2 separate regions of the Homo sapiens genome follow, and region 1 is linked to region 2. Evidence: fine-mapped expression QTL. A gene starts in region 2. The other region holds a variant in brackets. All regions are shown on one strand. Distances are from middle to middle.

The links. PIP is the estimated chance that this variant, and not a neighbour inherited with it, causes the effect. A credible set is the group of variants that fine-mapping cannot tell apart.
Region 1: its variant is the best candidate, but not a certain one, in a credible set for the expression of GASK1A in anterior cingulate cortex (GTEx, PIP 0.69).

Annotation. Positions count from the first base shown.
Region 1 is chr3:43,005,333-43,016,147 of GRCh38, forward strand. All of the region lies in intron 1 of GASK1A (golgi associated kinase 1A), which reads left to right. Among named protein-coding and RNA genes, the nearest start is that of GASK1A, 31 kb to the left of the region's middle. The variant C/G (reference allele first, on the strand shown) is at 5,787.
Region 2 is chr3:42,973,883-42,984,697 of GRCh38, forward strand. It overlaps GASK1A (golgi associated kinase 1A), which reads left to right and starts at 5,429. Exons shown (of 5, transcript NM_001129908.3): 1 at 5,429-5,763. The coding sequence starts at 5,761. RefSeq lists enhancers at 9,952-10,452, 10,453-10,815.

The sequences.
Region 1 (10,815 bases), 31 kb after region 2:
TGCAGTCTGAAAATATTAAATGGAAAATTCCAGAAATACACAATTTATGTTTTCATTTGTGTGTTGTACTGAGTAGTGTGATGAATCTTGTGGCATCTCGCTCTGTCCTACCTGGGACATGAGTCATCCCTTTGTCCAGTATATTCACACTGCAGATGCTCTCTGCCCATTAGTAACTTAGTAGCTGTCTCAGTTATCAGATGGCTATTGGAGTACTGCATTGCCCATGTTCAAGTAAACCTTATTTTACTTCATCATGGCCCAAAGTGCAAGAGTAGTGATCCTGCAATTGGAGTGTGACAAAGAGACGCTGAAAGTGCTTCATTTAAGTGAGAAGATGAAAGTTTCTCTACTTAAGAAAAAAAAATCGTAGGCTGGGGTTGCTAAGATCTGCAGTAAGAATGAATCTGCTATCTGTGAAATTGTCTTCTGAAGAAAGAGAAATTCATGCTAGTTTTGCTGCTGCACCTCAAACTGTGGCAAAAGTTACAGCCAAAGTGTGTGATAAGTGCTTCATTAAGATGGAAAAGGCATTCAATTTGTGGGTGGAAGACATGAACTTCTAGAAATGTGTTCTGATTTATGGCAATGGGATTTGGTACTGTCCAAGGTTTCAGGCATCCGCTGGGGGGCTTGGAACGTATCTTCCAAGGATAAGGGGTAGGGACTGCTGTATTATATTATGATCACCTTTCCTTTCCTGGGCACCTTTCTGTTTCTCTCTAGTTAGTAATCATCTTTTTTGTTTCCTTAGTTTTTTTCATGTACTTATCACAAGCCAACTTCCTCTTAATAGACTCAAGCACACATCAATTTCTTTCTTTGGAAACCCCCTGCCCAGAGCCTTTTGACCTGCTCCTTCTGAGCTGGTCGCTTTCTTGGTCGGTGCACAGCCGTTGGCTTAGGATCCTCCTTTCCCAGCATCCCACGAGTCTCTTTGCCTCTCTTGTTTTGCATCTTTGTTTCCTGCATCCCATGTCTTCCTCTTTCTTGGCTTACCTCCTGGTTTTAGTGGAGTAATTTAACCAATAGCTTGTTAAAAGTGACTACAGGAGGGGTAAACCATGTTGAAATGTTATATGCCTGAAATTGCCTTCATTCTACCCTCATATTTGATTGATAGTTTGGCTTGAGTATAGAATTAAAAGAAATAATTTTCTGTCAGATTTTGAAGGCTTTGCTCAATGGTGCTCTAGCCTCGGGTATTGTAGTAAAGAAGTCCACAGCCATTCTGATTCTTGATTACTTGGTATAAAACTTGTTTTATTTTTTTCTCCCTTTCTCTCTGGAAACTTGGAGGATATTTTCCCCAGTGTTCTGAAGCTTTACAATGATGTGCCTTGGTTTGTCTTAACCTGGTTTTCTAATAACAGAGCCCGAGGCTGGAGGCTTATGTGCTGTTATTTGGGAGTACAATCTCAGGAAACACCCAAAGAGAAGCAGGGAAACAGGAGAGATGATATGGCGATGTATTATCAAGCTGGCTGCTGCTACAGGCAATTGATTGTGTGATCCTATGGACCTATCCAAGAAGCTGCATAAATTGAATTCAGGACCACTTGAATTTACCCACTGTCTTCAGTCTCCCAATGATCAAAGCTTTGCTCCACTCGACATAAGTTTCCCTATACTTCCGGGTTGTGTACCCCTCAGTATCACACACCTGATAGTCATAGGAGAGCAGGTGAGAGGCACAGCACTGCCAAGTGGTGAAGCTCAGGATAGGTGGCCCCAAGCAGCCATTGCTATTGAAGCTTTTGCTTTTAATGGCTGCAGCAACAAACTGTCTCCATGACCATGGAAACAGGACATACTGTTGCTAGTGGGTGATCTCATCAAAATACAAGTGTGTGGGGCAATTGCAAATATCTGAATTCCATACCACTAAGGTCTCACTTTTTAGCCATTGTGTTGGATACTTGGGGGGCCCTTGCAATATTTCAATGTTCAGCATGTAAATGTTCTCTTAAAACTCCTGTTTTCAGTATAGTCCCCACTGCCCTCAACTGTCCCAGGTGTCTCCCAGCATGTAGCTTCCCTAGCTTTCTCTCTCCATAGAACAAACTTTCAGTCTTCTGCTGGGTGCAGGAGGGGCAGCTGCCTGACTTCACAGTATGGAGATCTGGGTGTCTAGCTTCTTCTTAAGTCGACTTTCAGCCAATCCTTTTGTTTTTTATCCTATCAGCACCAGTCCTTTACCTGTTGGGGGCTCCCTTGGTGTAAATCATGTTGAGTTTTGACCTGCCTTCTAGTTTAGGATTCAGCTTTCATGAGTCTGCTCAGGCCATTGCTACTCATTCACCTGCTTTCCAGCTTCCTGAATTTTGCTTTTATGGTTGACTGCTTTCCTGTTCTCTTTATCCTTAGAGGTTTGTTCTTTAAAAATAAGAACACTTTACTGTTATTTTCATATTTCAGGAGGAAAGAAAGAGAATAGCAGGTGCTTAGTCTACCATTTTTAGCTGAACAACAGCATTACTTTTCTAAATCAAATTGTCTGGCTCCAAGCCTGTCCTCACCTAGGTGACCTGATATCAGTCAGACAGCCCAGCTCAATTTACCTTTAGGAGCCTTGGTTGGCTTTTAAAGCAAAGGCCTTTTTATTCTATCCTGGGGCAGGAAGAGGATGGCTTCCAGCTCTCCGGGTTTGCTTGCTTGCTTGCTTGCTTGGAGAAGAAAGGCAGGTGGAGAAACAACTCTTATTCTTTTAGGCTTCTATAATAGCAGGGTCAAAACTCCGGCTAATAAACTGATGGAGTTAGCTAGACCTGGGTTTGAGTCTAACTCTGCCACTTAGCTATGAGGCTGTAAGAAACTGACATAAGCTGTCTATGCCTCAGTTTCCTCAGCTTCCCAATGTGAGGAATGATACCTCCCTTCCAGGGAGGTTGCAGGAAGTAGAGGAACTGTCTTATCAGGTACCTGGCACAGGGTCTGGCATGGGAGATGCTCAACAATGCTGGCTACAGTTGGTGTTCTGGAGTCTCTCGAGGGAGGACCTCCACGCCTCCATGGTGCCACGTGCACCCCCAGACGTGGCTGCCTGCCTCCTTCCTAGTCCTCTGAAGCCGGAGGTCACCTGGCTGGAAGGAGCTCTATGCCCACGGTTGTCAGGAAATGCCTCATGAGCATCCCCACTGCAAGGCCTCTTTATTTCCCATTCAGTGTACAGGCTTCCTATCTGATAGACTCACTGAAGGAAAAAGGAAAGATTTAATTTTTCCATCTCAGATTTCAACTATAGCTTTGTTTTAACCTTCTCAAGTGCCAGTCTTCTAAGAGGTATTTTGTGTCTGAGCCCTGCTTTCCTGCTGCCAGGCATCTGCCCAGGAATGCTTTCGCCCTCACCAGGACTCTACAGGTGTGTACAGAGCAGCCATGCTTTAGAAGTCAACTGCACTTAGGAGCAGCAGAGCAGGGAGTCAGAGGTCACTCTTTTGGTCACTTGAGCAAGTGGTGGCTCTGAGGAGGCACGTTGGTATCAGTCCCTGAAACCTCTTCACACGCTTTCCTCTCAGTTATGGTTTGCCAGTGTTCAGAATGCTGTGACTGTAACTGTTACCAGCCCATCCACAGATGGAGAGAGTGCGGCATGGGGCAGTAACTTAAAGGAGGTGCTGGAGTTCCCAAGTACCTTGGAGATTTAATAATCATGAGATTTAATGATAATGCTAAGTAATAACTATAAAAATGTATGCAAGGCTCTGTTCTCAGCACTTTATATACATTAAAATATGTTGAATCCTCACAGCAACTCTTTGAGGGAGGAACCATTTTCATACTCATTTTTCAGATGCAGAAATTGATGTGAAGATATATGCTTATTAGGGCAAAGCTGGGGGGTTGGACCTAGAGAGTCCAGCTCCTGTGTATCCTTCAGCGCATCCTTCTAGATGTTGCCTTTCTGAAGTGAGTGTAAGTATTTGTTGAAAGATAACACAACTCATCATCTCCCATGTCTCAGCTGGTATCAGGAACCCCAGCCAATGTAATGAAGAGACGGATCCAGGTATTTCTCAGGTCTTTAAAATCCTTCTGCTAGCACTGCTTCCCCCAGGTTATCTGGGCGCATTGAAAATGCTTCTGGATAAACCCCTGATGGCCTGAGCTAATTCTTTCCCCCATGTGCCCTGAAGTCCCCAGGGCCAGAACTGGCTCCTGTGTGCTGGGAAGGGCTTGGTCTCTGCAGGCTGGAGGCCAGAGTTGGAATCTCAGCTCTTCTACTTAGATGGTGTGTCACCTTGAGCAAATTTTGAAGTCTCTTTTTCGAGTTCCTCAGCCATAAAATGGTATGATATTTCCTTCCTACCTGTTAGAGTCATTGTGAGAATATCTGGAGGCAACATCCTTCTAGCCATAACAGTGAAAAACATGTAACAAACTCATGGTGTCATCAGATGTTGGTGGAGACCTCAGGTGGTGGCACCCAGAACTGCTGTCCAGCATTCCATGCTTCACCAGCCCTGTCCCACAAGTTTGGAAAGATAAGTGGCCTGAACGTAGGCAAGGCTAGATTTGCCAGAATTGGCATGAGGGAAATTATTATATCATTACCTTTTCACTTGAGACAGTGAGTTGCTGGGGGGCAGGGGCCAAGCCTTCTTCGCACTGGTGTCCTTATTTCTTGGTCCAGTGCTTGGCATTAGGGGAGGTCAGAATAGAAGGATAAAATTGTAATGCAGCACAATTTTTCTGGGGAGCAACCTCACCCCTACACTGTTCCTTTGGAGGAAGCTGCCTCCTGCCCCAGGGTGCTCTGGATTCCCACACTGGTTCCCTGAGGGTCTCCAAAGTACGTGCCTAACATCATATGCCTTTCCCAGTATCCTTCACTCCCTGTTGTCTACCAGTCACATGTTGGGTTCCAGGCCGTTATATATAGCAACTCAGTACCTACAATAACAGAAACCACTCTGGTGAAGGAGGGAGTCTGAAAAGGTGAACTCGTACTCAGATATTACCCAGCCAGAGCCTTCTTCCTGCTAGGCCATACTCTTCAGTAGAACCCTAATGCTTTCAGGGCTTCTCAAGAAAGCCTAGTTCTTGAGGCTTTCTCAAATCCCCGAATTTGAGAAACACCATTATAGCATTTTATATTCTCCCATGAAATACAGTAGAGTGGGCTGCAAGAGTTAAATTTTCAATTTCTATCACTGTCCTTGAAAAATAATTTTTACCTTGGCTGAGGCCTTTGCTGAAACGATTTTTTGAATTGCTTTTCGTATTTCATGAGGGTGGAGAATTCATTTGGATTATAGATTTCTGCCATCTCTAAGTTTGACATTCCTTTCTTTCTTGCTTTAAAAGCTAATATTTTCTAGGTCTTGTCTCCCTGTGTACCACTTCCTCCCCACACCCATCCCAACTGAGAACCATCATTTTCTAAGGCTTCTTTTGGTTTTCATTCCTTCCCCAGCACTAGCTATTGCCATTTGTTCTCCAAGGAAGTTTCCATCACATAATAAGATTACAATATCCCTGATGTTATGCTATGGAAGCTAAGCAGCAGAACCTGGGCAGACAGCCATGGACACATGGATGGCTCCTCCTACCATATTTGCTTGAAGTAAATGAGATTCAGATCTGAGCCTCAGAGGAATTTCAAATTGCACCCTGCCATGGACCTTTAGCCTCTTACCTTCCCCAACTCCCCCCTCTCCACCCACCAACAAATCCATTAAGGTAAAATATCTATAGTGTTTTTAACTGTTCAAAATAGTTTTCTTCAAATGTGCCAAGAGGGCATTTGCTTAGGCAGATTAAGAAATGGGCCAGGCATGGTGACT[C/G]ACGCCTGTAATCCCAACACTTTGGGAGGCCGAGGTGGGCAGATCACGAGGTCAGGAGATCAAGATCATCCTGGCCAACATGGTGAAACCCTGTCTCTACTAAAAATATAAAAATTAGCTGGGTGTGGTGGCGTGCGCCTGTAGTCCCAGCTACTTGAGAGGCTGAGGCAGGAGAATCACTTGAACCTGGAGGGCAGAGGTTGCAGTGAGCCGAGGTCGCACCACTGCACTCCAGCCTGGCGACAGAGTGAGACTCCATCTCAAAAAAAAAAAAAAAAAAAATGGTTAGGAGATCACAAGAGATTTTTATTGCAAATAGGAACCTTTTTCTGTATGTAAGAACCCACTGTGTGGGCTGTCATTTACAAGGCAGGGCTGGCTTCTAGGATTTAGCACACACTGAATTGCAGCAAGTCAAGGCTGTGTGAAGCCATGGGAAATGGCTGTGTGAAGTCACAGAAAGGGACAATGTGAAGTCACAGGAAGAAGCAGAGTGAAGTCACAGGAAGGAGCAGTGTGAAACAATAGGAAGGGGCTGGAAGATGTCATAAGAAGAAATTATGTGAAGTCACAGGAAGGGGCTGTGTGGAGCCAGAGAAAGGGGCTACGTGACATCACAGGAAGGAACTGTGTGAAGCCAAGGGAAGGGGCTGTGTGAAGTCACAGGAGGAGGCTGTGTGAAGCCACAGGGTCAGTATGAAGCCACAGGAAGAGGCAGTGTGACGTTAGGAAGGGGCTGTGTGAAGCCAAGGAAGGGGCTGTGTGAAGTCATAGGAAGGGGTAGTGTGAAGCCAGATAAAAGGGCAGTGTGAAGTCACAGGAAGCGGCAGTGTGAAGCCAAAGGAAGGAGCAGTGTGAAGCCAAATAAAGGGGCTGTGTGAAGTAACAGGGACAGTGTGAAGCCAAAGGAAGGGGCAATGTGAGGCCAAAGGAAGGGACAGTGTTGAGCCATAGGCAGGGGCTGTGTGAAGCCACAGGAAGGGGAATGGGAAGTCACAGGAAGGAGCAGTGGGAAGTCACAAAAAGGGACTGTGGAAAGTCACAGGAAGGGGCAGAGGGAAGTCACAGGAAGAGGCTGTGGGAAGCCATAGAAAGGGGCTGTTTGAAGCCACTGGAAGGGGCTTCTGAGGTCACAGGAAGGGGCAGTGTGAGGTCACAGGAAGGGGCTGTGTGAAGCCACTGGAAGTAGCTGTGTGAAGCCACTGGAAGGGGCAGTGTGAAGCCACTGAATGGGACAGTGTGAAGCCACAGGAAGGGGCTGTGTGATGTCACAAGTAGGGGCAGGGTGAACTTACAGGAAGTGGCTCTGTTAAGCCACAGGAAGGGGCAGTGTGAAGCCACAGGAAGGCACAGTGTGAAGTCACATGAAAGGGGCTGTGTGAAGTCACAGGAAGGGAAGTGGAAAGTCACATGAAGGGGCTATGTGAAGTCACAGGGAAGGGCAGTGTGGAGCCACAGGCAGTGTGAGGCCACAGGAAGGAGCTGTGTGAAGTCACAGGAAGGGAAGTGGAAAGTCACATGAAGGGGATATGTGAAGTCACAGGGAAGGGCAGTGTGGAGCCACAGGCAGTGTGAGGCCACAGGAAGGAGCTGTGTGAAGTCACAGGAAGGGAAGTGGAAAGTCACATGAAGGGGCTATGTGAAGTCACAGGGAAGGGCAGTGTGGAGCCACAGGCAGTGTGAGGCCACAGGAAGGAGCTGTGTGTAGCCACAGGAAGGGGCAGTGTGAAGTCACAGGAAGGGGCAATGGGGTCACAGGAAGGGGCTATGTGAAGTCAGAGAAAGGGGGGTTGTGTGAGGCCACAGGAAGAAGCAGTGTGAAGCCACAGGAAGGGGCTGTGTGAATCACAGGAAGAGGCAGTGTGAAGTTACAGAAGGGGCTTTGTGAAGCCACAGGAAGGGGCATGGGAAATCACGGGAATGAGCTGTGGGAAGTCACAGGGAGGGGCAGAGGGAAGTCACAGGAAGGGGCAGTGGAAAGTCACAAGAAGGAGTGTGTGAAGCCACTGAAAGGGGCAGTGTGAAGTCACAGGAAGGGGCAGTATGAGGTCACAGGAAGGGGCTGTGTGAAGTCACTGGAAGGGGCAGTGAGAAGTCACAGGGAGTGGCTGTGGGAAGTCACAGGAAGAGGCAATGTGAAGCCACAGGAATGGGCAGTGTGAAATCGCAGGTAGAGGCTCTGTGAATCCACAGGAAGGGGCAGTGAGAAGTCACAGAGGCAGTGTGAAGTCAAAGGAAGGGGCCGTGTGAAACCACAGCAAGGGGTGCTGTGAAGTCACAGGAAGGGGCAGTGTGAGGCCACAGGAATGGGCAGTAGGAAGTTACAAGAAGGTGCAGTGGGAAGTAACAGCAAGGGGCTGTGTCAAGTCACAGGAAGGGGCTGTGTGAAGCCACAGGAAGAGGCAGTGGGTAGTCACAGGAACAGGCATTGTGAAGCCACAGGGAGGGGTATTGTGAAGCCAAAGAAGTGGCAGTGTGAAGCAACAGGAAGGGACAGTGGGAAGTCACAGAAAGGGGCAGTGTGAGGCCACCAGAATGTGCAGTGGGAAGTTACAGGAAGGTGCTGTGTGAAGTCACAGGAAGGGGCTGTGGGAAGTCACAGGACAGGGTAGTGTGATATCACAGGAAGGAACTGGGTAAAGCCACTGGATGGGGCTACGTGAAGTCACAGGAAGTGGCTGTATGAACTCACACAAAGGGGCTAGGTGAGGTCAGAGGAAGTGGCAGTGTGAGTTCACAGGCAGGGGCTTTGTGAAACCACAGGAAGGGGCAGTGGGAAGTCACAAGAAGTGGCTGTTGGAAGTCACAGGAAGAGGCAGTGTGAAGTCACAGGAAGGGTAATGTGAAGCCACAGGAAGGGGCTGTGTGAAGCCACAGAATGGGGCTTTGAAAAGCGGCAGGAAGGGGTAGTGTGAAGTCACAGGAAGAGGTGGTGTGATGCCACAGGAAGGGACTGTGTGAAGCCACAGGAAGGGGCAGTAGGAAGTCACAGGAAGGGGCTGTGTGAAGCCACAGGAAGGGGGAGTGTTAAACCACAGGAAGGCACAGTGTGAAGTCACAGGAAGGGGCTGTGTGAAGTCACAGGTAGGGACAGGGGGTAGTCACAGGAAGGTGCTGTGTGAAGCCACAGGCAGGGTCAGTGAGAAGTCACGGGAAGAAGGAGTGTGAAGTCATGGGAAGGGGCTGTCTGAAGTCACAGGAAGAGGCAGTGGGATGTCAAAGGAAGGGATGGTGTGAAGTCAGAGGAAGAAGCTGTGTGAAGTCACAGGAAAGGCCAGTGTGAAGCCACAAGAAGGGGCAGTCTGAAGCCACAGAAGGGGCAGTGTGACGTCACAGGAAGAGGCAGTGTGAAGCCACAGGGAGGGTAGTGTGAAGCCAAAAGGAGGGGCATTGTGCAGCCACAGGAAGGGGCATTGGGAAGTCACAGGAAGTGGCTGTGGGAAGTTGCAGGAAGGGGCTGCAGGGAGTCACAGGAAGTGGCTTTGTGAAGTCGCAGTATGGGACAGTGGGAAGTCAGAATGAGTGGCTATGGGAAGTCACAAGAAGTGGCCATGTGAAGTCACAGGAAGAGACAGTATGAAGTCATAGGAAGGCGTGGTATGAAGTCACAGGCAGGGTTCTGTGTGAAGCCACAGGAAAGGGCACTTTGATATCACAGGAATGGGCAATGTGAAGTCACTGGAAGCGGTGGTGTGAAGCTACAGGAAAGGCCAATGGGAAGTCATAGGAAGGGGCTGTGTGAAGCCAAAGGAAGAGGCACTGTGAAATCACAGGAAGAGGCTGTTTTACGCCCTGGGAATGGGCAGTGTGAAGCTACTGGAAGGGGCTTGTGTGGTCACAGGAAGTGGGAATTTGAGGTCACAGGAAGGGACTGTGTGAAGCCACAGGAAGGGACAGTGAGAAGTCACAGAAAGGGGCTGGGTGAAGTCACAGGAAGTGGCTGTGTGAAGCCACTAGGAGGGGCAGTGTGAAGCCACAGGAAGGGGCTCTGTGACATCACAGGTAGGGGCAGTGTGAAGTCACAGGAAGGGGCTGTGGGAAGTCACAGAAAGGGGCAGGGTGGTGTGAAATAACAGGGAGGGGCAGTATGACATCACAGGAAGGGGCAGTGGGAAGTCACAGGAAGGAGCAGTGCGAATTCTCAGGAAGGGGCTGTGGGAAGCCACAGGAAGGGGCTGTGTGAAGCCACTGTAAGGGGCTTGTGAGGTCACAGGAAGGGGCAGTGTGAAGTCACAGGAAGGGGCGGTGTGAAGTGATAGGAAGGGGCAGTGAGAAGTCACAGGTAGGGGCTGTGTGAAGTCACAGGATCTCTGGCTGTGTGAAGACACAGAAAGGGGCAGTGTGAAGTCACAGGAAGGGGCAGTGTGAAGCCACAGGAAGGGGCAGTGTGAAGCCATAGGAAGGTACAGTGTGAAGTCACAAGAAAGGGGCTGTGTGAGGCCACAGGAAGGGGCTGTGCAAAGTCACAGGAAGGAAAGTAGGAAGTCACAGGAAGCGGGTGTGTGAAGTCACTGAAAGGGGCTGTGTGAAGCCACAGGAAGGGGCAGTGGGAAGTCACAGGTAGAGGCAGTGTGAAGCCACAGGCAGGGAGGTGCTGTGTGAGGCCACAGCAAGGGGCCATGTGTAGCCACAGAAAGGGGCAGTGTTAAGTCACAGGAAGGGGCAGGGCAGTGTGAAGTAACAGGGAGGGGCAGGGCAGTGTGAAGCCACAGGAAGAGGCTGTGTGATGCCACAGGAAGGGGCACTGTGAAGTCACAGGAAGAGGCAGTGTAAAGCCACAGGGAGGGGCAGTGTGAAGCCAAAGGAAGGGGCAGTGTAAAGCCACAGGAAGGGTCTGTGTGAAGCCACAGGAAGGGTCTGTGTGAAGCCACAGGATGGGGTTTGGGAAGTCACATGGAGGGCCAGTGTGAAGTCACAGGGAGGGGCTCTGTGAAGTCACAGAAAGGGGCTGTGTGAGGGCAGAAGTGGCAATGTGAGGTCACAGGAAGGGGCTGTGTGAAGCCCCGGGAAGGGGCATAGGAAGTCACAG
Region 2 (10,815 bases):
TTAATCCCCAAGACAATGAAGAAAATGTCACCAGGGCATGTCAGAGGTCTTCACAGCAACCCCTCCCATCACAGGCCCAGAGGCTTAGGAGGAAAAAGTGGTTTTGTGGGCTGGGCTCAGGGTTCCCATACTGTGTGCAGCCTAGGGACTCGGTGCACTGCATCCCAGCTGTTCCAGCCATGGCTGAAAGGGTCCAATATAGAGCTTGGGCTGTGGCATCAGTGGGTGCAAGCCCCAAGCCTTGGCAGCTTCTACGTGGTGTTGAGCCTGCAAGTACACAGAAGTCACAAATTGGTGTTCAGGAACCTCCTCCTAGATTTCAGAGGATGTATGGAAATGCCTGGATGTCCAGGCAGAAGTTTGCTGCAGGAGTGGGGCCCTCTTTGAGAATCTCTGCCAGGGCAGTGTGGAAGGGAAATGTGGGGTGTGAACCCCCACCCAGAACCCCTACTAGGGCACTGCCTAATGGAGCTGTGAGAAGAGGGCCACAATCCTCCAGATCCCAGAATGGTAGATTCACCAATAGCTTGCATTGTGAACCTGGAAAAGCTGCAGACCACCCAATGCCAGCCTGTGAAAGTGGCCAGGAGGTGGGCTATACCCTGCAAAGCCACAGGGATGGAGCTGCCCAAGGCCACGGGAGCCCACCTCTTGCGTCAACATGACCTGGATGTGAGACATGGAGTCAAGGAGATAATTTTGGAACTTTAAGATTTGACTTCCTTGCTGGATTTCAGATTTACATGGGGCCTGTAGCCCCTTTGTTTTGGCCAATTTCTCCCATTTGGAATGGCTGTATTTACCCAATTCCTGTACCCCCATTGTATCTAGGAAATAACTAACTTGCTTTTGATTTTACAGGCTCATAGGCAGAAGGGACTTGTTTTGTCTCAGATGAGACATTGGACTGTGGACTTTTGAGTTAATGCTGAAATGAGTTAACACTTTGGGGGGACTGTTGAAAAGGCATGATTGGTTTTGAAATGTAAGGACATGACATTTGGGAGGGGCCAGGGCAGAATAATATGGTTTGGCTGTGTCCCCACCCAAATCTCATCTTGAATTCCCACATGTTGTGGGAGGGACCCTATGGGAGGTAATTGAATCATGGGAACAGATATTTCCCATGCTGTTTTCATGATAGTGAATAAGTCTCATGAGATCTGATGGCTTTGTAAGGCGGAGTTTCCCTGCACAAGCTCTCTCTCTCTTTGCCTGCTGCCATCCATGTAAGACGTGACTTGCTCTTCCTTGCCTTCTGCCACGATTGTGAGGCCATGTGGAATTCTAGGTCCATTAAACCTCTTTCTTTGGTAAATTGCCCAGTCTTGGGTATGTCTTTATCAACAGCATGAAAACAGACTAATATAGGGAGTAAATATTTGCTGAACAATAATGTAAGTTACCTCAGCCCCCTTCAAATGCTTCTGTGGGCCCCACCAATGACTTCCATTTGCTTCTTATTGGCTGTTCGTTTTTGCAAGGGAGGTTGTGAAATATATAATTTTTTGGCCAAGTATACTGCTTCCCCTTGAAATATACGAGTTAAGTGAATGAAAAAAAAGAATGTAAACTGGATGCTAACATTCTCTGCTGCAAAAGAAGTTTTTTTCTCATTCGTCATTCTTGGATTCAATAAATGTTTTTGAAAGTTTACCATGAGAAAAGTCCTGACTTGGATGTTGTAACTTATATGAGCACATTACATGGTTGCAGGAATCCAGGGAGTTAGGCTGGGCTGGGATGATGGTTCTTATCTGTCAGATGAGGAACCTGAACCAGTGGAGAGGAAGTGGCTTTGCTGAGGACCCATGCTTTGTGAGTGGTAGATTCAGTTTTGAACCTCAGTCTTCTCTGTCTCATTCCTTTATTCAGAAGCATTTATCAAGTAGCTACTTGGTACCAGGAAGATGGAGACAGAAGGCCCAGAATCGTCTTTTCTTCTAGGAAGTGAGAGTCACAGGAGATAATATTTGCAACAGAGAAACTTCAGGGGACATGCTGTGCTGGACCTTCAGGATGGGGAGGACTGGTGCAGGGAGGTATGTCAGGTTGGAAATAGGAATGTGTCAAGAAAAGGCTTTGAGATGGAGGAAACTGCCCTGAAGGAGGTTTATGAGTGTGTAAAAGGCTTGAAGAAGTAATCGGAGGTCAAACCTTGAAGGAGTCTGAAAGCTATGCTGCTGAGGAATTTGCACTTAATCCTGAGAGTTATGTGGAACAGGTCAGTGGCAGGCCCATGTTTACGTTTTGGCAGTAATGTGCAGGATGGATTGGAAAGAGCAAAAGTAGAGCCTGAGATGCTAGTTGAGTTTCTGAGAGTACTGTAAGTGATGACAAAAGTTTGAGCCAAAGAACTGGCCGTGAGGAGGAGAAAGATTCCAGAATCATTTAGAAAGGCCATTTGGATATGGGAGCCAAGGAAGAGGAATTGCGTCGTTCAGCAGTTCTCAGCCCTGGCTATGCTTAAAAAATATAAAGACACTCAAGCCTTGGAAATTTTGATTCAGTAAGTCTGGAATGGAGCTAGACATGGAATCTTATTAGAGAGTGGGCCTGTTGGGCCGCTGCCTGGGGTACCAGTTTATAAGAAACCCTAAAACGTCCTTAGAGCAAGTTGGAAATCTGCTAACTGGTGAAAGATAGACTCACTCCTAATGAACCTGGAGCACCCTGTCATGAAAATAATAAAATATTCCTCTCTAGCACCAACCTGTCCCAGTGGAGTGAGTTGAGTATTTCCTACTTGCAAGGTCTGCAGTGTAACCAGAGGCTCTGCCAACAACCTGGGAGCAGCCAACCACCAGTCAACAAAAATTTGGAAAGTAACAAAACATGAAGTGTTGTTTCCTAGAAGGGAGGGATTTACTGGTTATCTAAATTTAAAACCCTTTAATATAGCTTCCAAGAAGTTGCGGCCAGGCGCGGTGGCTCACGCCTGTAATCCCAGCACTTTGGGAGGCCGAGGCAGGTGGATCATGAGGTCAGGAGATCGAGACCATCCTGGCTAACAAGGTGAAACCCCGTCTCTACTAAAAATACAAAAAATTAGCCGGGCGCGGTGGCGGGCGCCTGTAGTCCCAGCTACTCGGGAGGCTGAGGCAGGAGAATGGCGTGAACCCGGGAAGCGGAGCTTGCAGTGAGCCGAGATTGCGCCACTGCAGTCCGCAGTCCGGCCTGGGCGACAGAGCGAGACTCCGTCTCAAAAAAAAAAAAAAAAAAAAAAAAGAATTACAAGGTGGAACTGAAGAGGAATGGAGTGTGCAATCTTAAATAGAGTGGTCAGAGAAGGCTTCACTAAAGAGGTGACACTTGGGCAAAGACCTGAAGGAGATGAGGGAGCAAACCATGGGGATATCTGGGGCATTCTAGGGAGAGGGATAACAAGTGCAAAGGTCCTGAGGTGGGATCTTGCCTGTAATATGCAAGGGACAATAAGAAGGTGAGTGTGTCCTGGAGCACAGTGAGAGAGAGTGTGCAGAGATAATGTTAGAGAACCAATGAGGGCCAAAGTGTGAAAGGACTTGTAGGCCCCTGTAAGATGTGGCATGTTACACTGCAGGAGATTTGAAGCCTCTGGTAGGTTTTGAGCAGAGAAATGACAAAAATCTGATTTATGACTCTTTTCAAGTAATTCTTCTTAAAAGTAATTTTATTCATGTTATTAGGATGGACCAGGATATGCTATAACAACAAACAATTCTTTACAGCTTAGCCATGTTCTTGTGTGACATTTTATTTGGCTGGGCTAGATCCTGCAGCAGCTTTTCCCAAGTGTGTTCCATGAGTCATTGGAGCTGCTTCTTTTGAAAAACAGTTCTGCTTCCAGTAATCCTGGAAATACTGGGCACTCTCTTCCTGTCTAAGTTAGTGATTTGAGACCATCATTAAAAATACATAAAATTGGAATAGAATAGAAAATGTCAGAGTGCATCACATGAAGTAATGTTTTATAAAACAATCTTTTAGTTACATTTATACATATATGTTTAATATATATCTTGTGTGGGGTCACAGTCAGAAAATGAGACTCAAAAGATCACAGCGTCTCCCTAAACATCTAAATAAAACCCTGAATGGTTTGTACTGTCCTCCACCCTCTTCCCTCATTTCCCAACCAGGGCTCAAACTCTCTGTCCTTTCAGTAGTCCATATGCACAGACAAGCTGCAGTTTGCAGTGCTACATCCTGCCTCCTGTTCCTGCCATATCAAGTCTTCCTCTTTGTTTCATGTTCTGGCAAATAGACTTGGATTTGCTAAACTGTTTACTGGCGATCTGGTCTCAGGAAAGTTACTTCACCTCCCTAATCCTGACTTTCCTAATTTGCAAAAGTTTTCCTTTTAGGATCGTTTGTGGTTATTAAATGAAATAATGTACAGAAAGCATCTGGAATGTTAAGGACCGAATACTTTCCCTTCATCTGTTCCTCCTGCCCATACACACATACACAATTTAAGGGGACTCTCTGGATCTTTGCTTCCCTTTAGAAGCACTGCCATCAGTGATAACCTCAGATCATTCTGGGGCAGGAGACTGCTGGGAAGATGCCTGTCTTCATCTAGCTAATGATGCTTCCTGTTAGTTTCAGTACTGGAGGCTAATTTTTCAGCCTGGCCCCCAAATTCTCTCAGAGCACCCTACTGCTGACTCTGCCTCGCCTCCATCCATTGTCTACAGGCTCTTAATAATCCTGGGGTCCAAACATTGGGCCACTGGGGGACACAAGTCATAAAGACGTCTGGGGACTGGTCGATGGTCATCCAGCTGTTAATAGTGGGGCTAGCCCTGATTTTGGGACTACAGAACCCCTAAGCCCAGGACATTCCCCAACGGGGAACGGATAGACTCTCAGGTCTTGCTCTGACTGTGCCTTTGTTGGCAGTAGGTGACTCAGGGGACACAAAGGCACTGTCTGTGCATCCAAAGCAGAGAGGTATCAGCCACTTACTTCAGTGACTTTAACAGTGATTAGTTCTCAAGGACAAAAACTCTTCATTGTTAATTAGCTTAGTGGTCAACGGATTTTCCTTCCAAATCCTCTTGGGGACTGAACCCAAACAAGGCGAAGAAGTGACAGTAAAAAAAGACTTGTCCTTCTGACAAGCGACAGTAAAGAAAAAGACTTGTCCTGCTTGGCAGGAGAGGGTGGCAGTTTGGGCAACACTCAGCCATATTGCTGAGTTGCAGCGAACTCACCAAGCACCCTCACACCTTAGAGGCGTCCCTCACCGTCCAGCCTTGGTGCATCACCCGTCAGGCGGGCAGTCAGGGCGTAGACCTTTCCTTCCTAGCACCTGGGCCCCTACTCCAGAAGACCAGAAGACTGCGGCTGGCCGAGCCCCCGGCAGGGCTTTTATTGTGAAGGGAGCTTCCCCCTCCCGCGCTTTCAGGGGAATGGGGAAGCTGGGCCGGGACGCGCGGCAGGGACTTTGCAAACTCTGCAAAAGTCCCGAGTAGACCGCAGAGGCTCGCGGCCGCGGGTAGGCTCCCTCAGATCCCCGTAGATCTCAGTAGATCCGGCGTGTATTCCCCACCCGCGGAGTATCCCGGTGTGCAGCGATCTCCCGAGAGTTGGCGCAGGGCCACTTGGCTGCAGAGAACGTGTGCACCTTCAGTCCGGGAAACCCGCCCCAGCCGAGTAGCCGCGCATCCTGGGAAGCCTGGCGAGCCACGGCGCCGGGGGCGGCCAAGGGGAGGCGGGATGAGTCTGCGAGCCGGCTGAGCGCGCCGAGGAGCCGGCCGGGGCACCGCCGGGGACATGGTAGGACTCGCGGGAAGGAACGCGCGAGCGGAGGGTGGGGCGATCACCAGGACAGGTGGCTGCAGTCAACGCGCAGCGGCCCAGGGCGCGCGCAGCCTGCGCGGCCTCCCGAGGCCGGAGTTGTTCCCCGAAAGTTGCATGGGGCGGCGGCGGCTTTCATTTCTGCACCAGAGCTGGGGGCGATCGGCTTTCCTGCCGCTCTTAGTGGGGCGGACCGTAATAAGGGGGCTTTTATTACTAATCTGCACTCCTTGACCTAACCGTAACCCACTCGCAACTCTGCAATCTTCATGCAATCCACAAGGCAGGGAGAGGGGAGCGTTCCCTGGGGAACCCACGGCAGCCTCTGATGAGATGCTTTTGAAGTCATTTTAATACTCTCCAAAGTTCATGTGAATTTTATACTATCTTCTCTAATTTAGCTATGTATTGATATTAAAAATAATGTCCTAACGTTTATTAACATTTAATAACTAAATTAACATTGAGTTAAATTGGCTCTAGTAAGGTTCCAATCCGCCTTCCTCTACCTCCCCGACAGGAGGACTGTTGGGCAGATGTGGAAGCACTGGTGGGTCTGGGATGTCACGATGAAACCAGGATCTTGTGGACGTGGCCCTTCCATTGATCAACTTCACAGACACTAACAGGCAGAAAAGAAAAACCCATCGAGAATGTGGCCCAGGCGGCTTAGCTAAAGGACACATGCAACCCCAGGAAAGGGGCGTCCCTCAGGCCCGGCCGCTGGTTAGTTGCTCTGCTTCTCCCGCAGCAGAAAACCCCTGCAACCCCAACTGGGCTCCTGCAGTTCACTGGGCTCCCCTGGCTGCTTCCGTGCCTGCTCGCCTCTTCCCTTTCCTTCCAAGCTCACAGAAGGCAGATCGGAACCCACTGGAGATGCTTTGTGGGGAGTTTTGCTGGGCCTGGGGTTTAGAAGGCTGTCTAGAGACTGCGCTGTAGGATGGAGGGTCTCTGTGAGAACAGCTCCTTTGTGTGCAGGGGGGCCTGGCAGGTGGCTGGAACAGAGGTGGAGGGCTGGTCATAAGGAGCTGGGGGCTCAGGGAAGGGTACCTTTGAGGCTAGGGGTGTGTGTATGTTTCACCCCTCCTAACACCTATCCAGCTTCAGGTTTTTTCTCAAAGCTGCTAAGAGAAGGAAATAGTGGAATCTTAAGCTTCAAAAGGGGGAATGATTGGGGGTACAGGATGTGAAACGAAAAGTGTGGAGATATCCTATTACAAATTCCCTGTTTAGGAGCAAGAGTGTTACCAGAACTCAGGCCACAGCCATCCACTCCGAGGGGCATTAGCATGCTGGAGTCTCCTGGCTTTAAAGGCAAATGTAGCAGAGGCTCTGTGGTCTGCGGCTGAAGCAGAGTGCCTGGAGGAGAGATGGTACCTGCCTTCTGCTCAGGCTGCCTAGGGGAACATTGGTGTGTTTGCCCCACTGCCAGCGTAAGCTTCCCGTTCTGTGAGTCATTGCAGCTTCCCGGTTTCACGTCCCTGGCTCTGGGTTCTGGTATTGTGTTAGGAAGAGGACTTGTGTCAACATTTCACTGTCTCAGGGTTCACTTGCAGAGAGAGGGGCCTGATGGTCATCCTCTGGCAGTGAAATGGCCTTGGAGATCTGAAGGCTGTCCTTTGCTTCTCCATCTGAATGAAGGGTCTTGAGGTCCAGAGACCACAGGGCAGCCTGGCACTGGCTAGAAGCAGCATGGGAGGAGACAGGGGGCTAGGAATCCTTTGAGGACCTTAGTTTCCTCTTCTGTTAGATGAGAGATTGGACTAGATGTTATTCAAGGTGCCATTTAGCTCCAAAAATGGGTGATATGTGAATAATTTTGAGATTGGATCTCAATTCTAGTGTTGAGCTGTGCTTAGCATGAACAACTAAAAAGGTGTGGGGAAGAAGTGGTTCTCAGCCCTGACTCAGGCTGCCCCCATCCCCCAGCCCAAATCCAGATGAGACCCAGACCAAGGGATGTTTTCAGGCTCTGCAAGTGAGCCCAGTGTGCTGCCAGGGCTGAGAACCACAGGGCAAGAAGGCTGAGAGAACGGGAGAAAGCTGGGGCTCAAAGCTGCACTTCCCAAGATATCCCTATGTCCACAGAGTGGTCATTCCTTGAGATAGTCCTAAAATAGTTTTTGGGAAATGATAGATGCTATATCATTTCCCATTATATGATATCACATATATCACATGCTATATCTCTTTGAGGGTCCTTCCACAGAGTATTGTCTTTTAATTCATTACACTGAGATTTGAACTTGCCCAGCTTGTTTGAATACGGTATCCTTTATTCAGTATTTCCCTAATGCCATCCTATTATTGATCCAAGATACGTATGATGGGAAACTCTGGGTTAGAAGTATACAAATAAAAGTATAGAATCCTTAAATGTCCTTTTGAAAAAAAGAAAAAAGAAAAGAGCATTGAGCTGCAGTATCTGCGGGGGCATTTTTGATTATCCTGAGGAGTCAGGGGTCATTGCCATGGCTTGGTGTGTATTTTTCTAAAGCGAAGATTGGAACACTTGTCAGTTTCTTTCTTTGCAGTGGTGGTGGGAGGTTTGGTGTTTGCCAAGGACTCTGTACTTGATGAAAAATATTGATAGAATCAGATATATATGTGTTGGGTTAAAAATTAAAAAAGAAAAATATTGATAGAGAAAGTTGAAACTATTACTGCCAATTAAAAAATGTTTTCCTCCTGATTTTTGAGAAAAAATACACAACTTCTACAGGAACCATGATTATCATTTTGGCATATTTCCTATTCTCTTTGAGTATTATTTTAAAGAGCTGAGATTTCACCACACATGGAATTTTGCAGTCTGATTTGTTTTACTTCAGTTTATATCAAAGCACGTTTCCATGTCTACATCTCTAGAAAAATCTTTTATAACCATACATTTAATGCTCAGTACCGTGATTTTGATAATCATCTCCCCATTTTTGGACATTTAGGTCACTTCAGGATTGGGGCTGATTTCAGTGGCATGTGGCCAGCTTCTCATTATCCATGGAAATGAGGACCTGAGTGCCCAGCTAAGTGGAAATCAGAAAAATTCACAAGAATGAATTGCTCCGGCCTCTTTCTCTATCCAAGCTCTTACTGTAACTACCCTCCCAGGGCCCAGCGTGCTGTGGGAGGAGTTTCCTCTTGCCTGTCTTCACTCTGTGCTGTGGGCAGGTCATCAGGCAGGCAGCAGTGGGGGCAATGGAGTCCCAGGGGAGCCCACATGGGCCAGTCCTCCTTGGGAGAACCAAGAGCTAAAATCCCTGGAGGTTAAGACTCAGAGGACAAGTAGCTGAAGCTGGAAAAGGGATGTGGCCTCTTTAGGGTCACTTAGAGCCAGGCTAGGGCCCGGGTCTCCTAGTTCTTCCCCTCCACTCTCCATGTAGGTCCTGTCACAGTCACTACAGCCCCATCATAGAATTGAGGGATGTGGTGTGGCTTGGAGTGGCAGAGGAAAGGCCTGGGGTTTGCAGTCAGAATGGGGTTTGTGCTGGGCTAGGTCACCGTGTGGCTCTGGGTAAGCGCTGCCTTGCTCTGAACCTTAGCCCCTTATCTGTAAAATGAGTCATTGTGAGGAGCAAATGGAGTCATGGAGGTGAAAATACTTGGTGTCTCAAAGGTGCTGTAAGATTGGGGGCTTTACAAACGACCCACAAAAATAGGTTTGCTTTTTGTTAGGGTCTAAAATGGTAAGGAAGTCACAGGTGCCTTTCATTCAATACCAGTCAAGGGGATGCTTCTGGGACTCTTCTCTAAGTAAGGATCTAGTATAGATGAAATTTACCCTCAAGTAGTTTTCTTGCTTCTTTAAGTCTCTCTTCTCATCAGGCAGGAAAACCCAGCCTGCAGATGTTCGTCCAGTCTGTCTCCCTTGCAGAATGCTGCTGACTGGATGAGAATGTAGCTCCCCAAACAGCCGCAGGTCCTTGGAATCTACTGCTGGGGTCCCCTCATTGAGTCCCTCTGCACTGAATGAGTCGCAGAAGTCATCAGGCTTAGCTAAAGAAGAGGTTAAACTGGTATTGGAACCTTGAAATGCAGCCCATGGAGCCTGTGGGAAATTTGATCCCCTCTCTCTTCTGGGGTACAGCCCTTACTTGCAGCTCCTGCTGCATACCTGACCCAGGCTTTGTGCAGGGCTGGGCAGGGAGCAGAGTGTTTTAAAGAATCTACTGGCCCCAACCATACCAAACAGAGGTTGATCCAAAAAACAGGGATGTCGGGGGTGGTGGGAACAGGCCTCACAAAGAAATGAGTTCCTTAGTTGTTTCAGGGACTAGTGAGAGAAACATGCTTCAGCTTGGCCTCAAAGATGCCGACATCCTTCCAATAGGTCTGGGAGGCCCAATGTCTGCTCCCCACCTAAGGTACTAGTAGAGACACAGAGTGCATCAGTTTTCTTTGAGGCATGGTTGCTGTGAGTCACCTGGGGCTGTCTTTGCTTGGATCATCTTGTGATGTGACTGCTAAAGTGTTTCTGCCTAGGGAGTTTAGGGCGTGATCCCTCATTTTCTGGATGTGTCTGCACAGGCCTGTGTGTGAAGGACCACTTGGCCTGAGATTGAGGATGAGAGGGAGCCATGATTGTGGGAAAATCCCAGGCCGCCCTTCTTTATGTGGATTTCACTTCCTATCTCTCTCTCTCTCTCTTTCTCTCTCTCTCACACACACACACGCTGACTTTCACACATCACACATATACTCATACACACACATGTGCACGCACACACACACTCACGCATGCACACATACTCTTGGGAGTGGCCTGGGATCTGGTCCTATTCCCCAGAGTCCAGCCTGTGGCTCCAGAACTGCCAGCTGAGTGGAAGATGGAAGGTGCTTTATAATAGCATCTGGTGAATCCTGGGGTCAAGGAGGCTAAGAGTGGAAGGAAAGCAGGATGAGGGCTGATGTGAAGGGTGAGGAAACAGCAGGAGTATAACTGAAATGCAGATTCAGTCACTCACCACTTGTAGAGTCCAATTAACAAGAGCAAGGTCTAGTATAAAGAAAGTGACTTTATTCTAAAGCTTA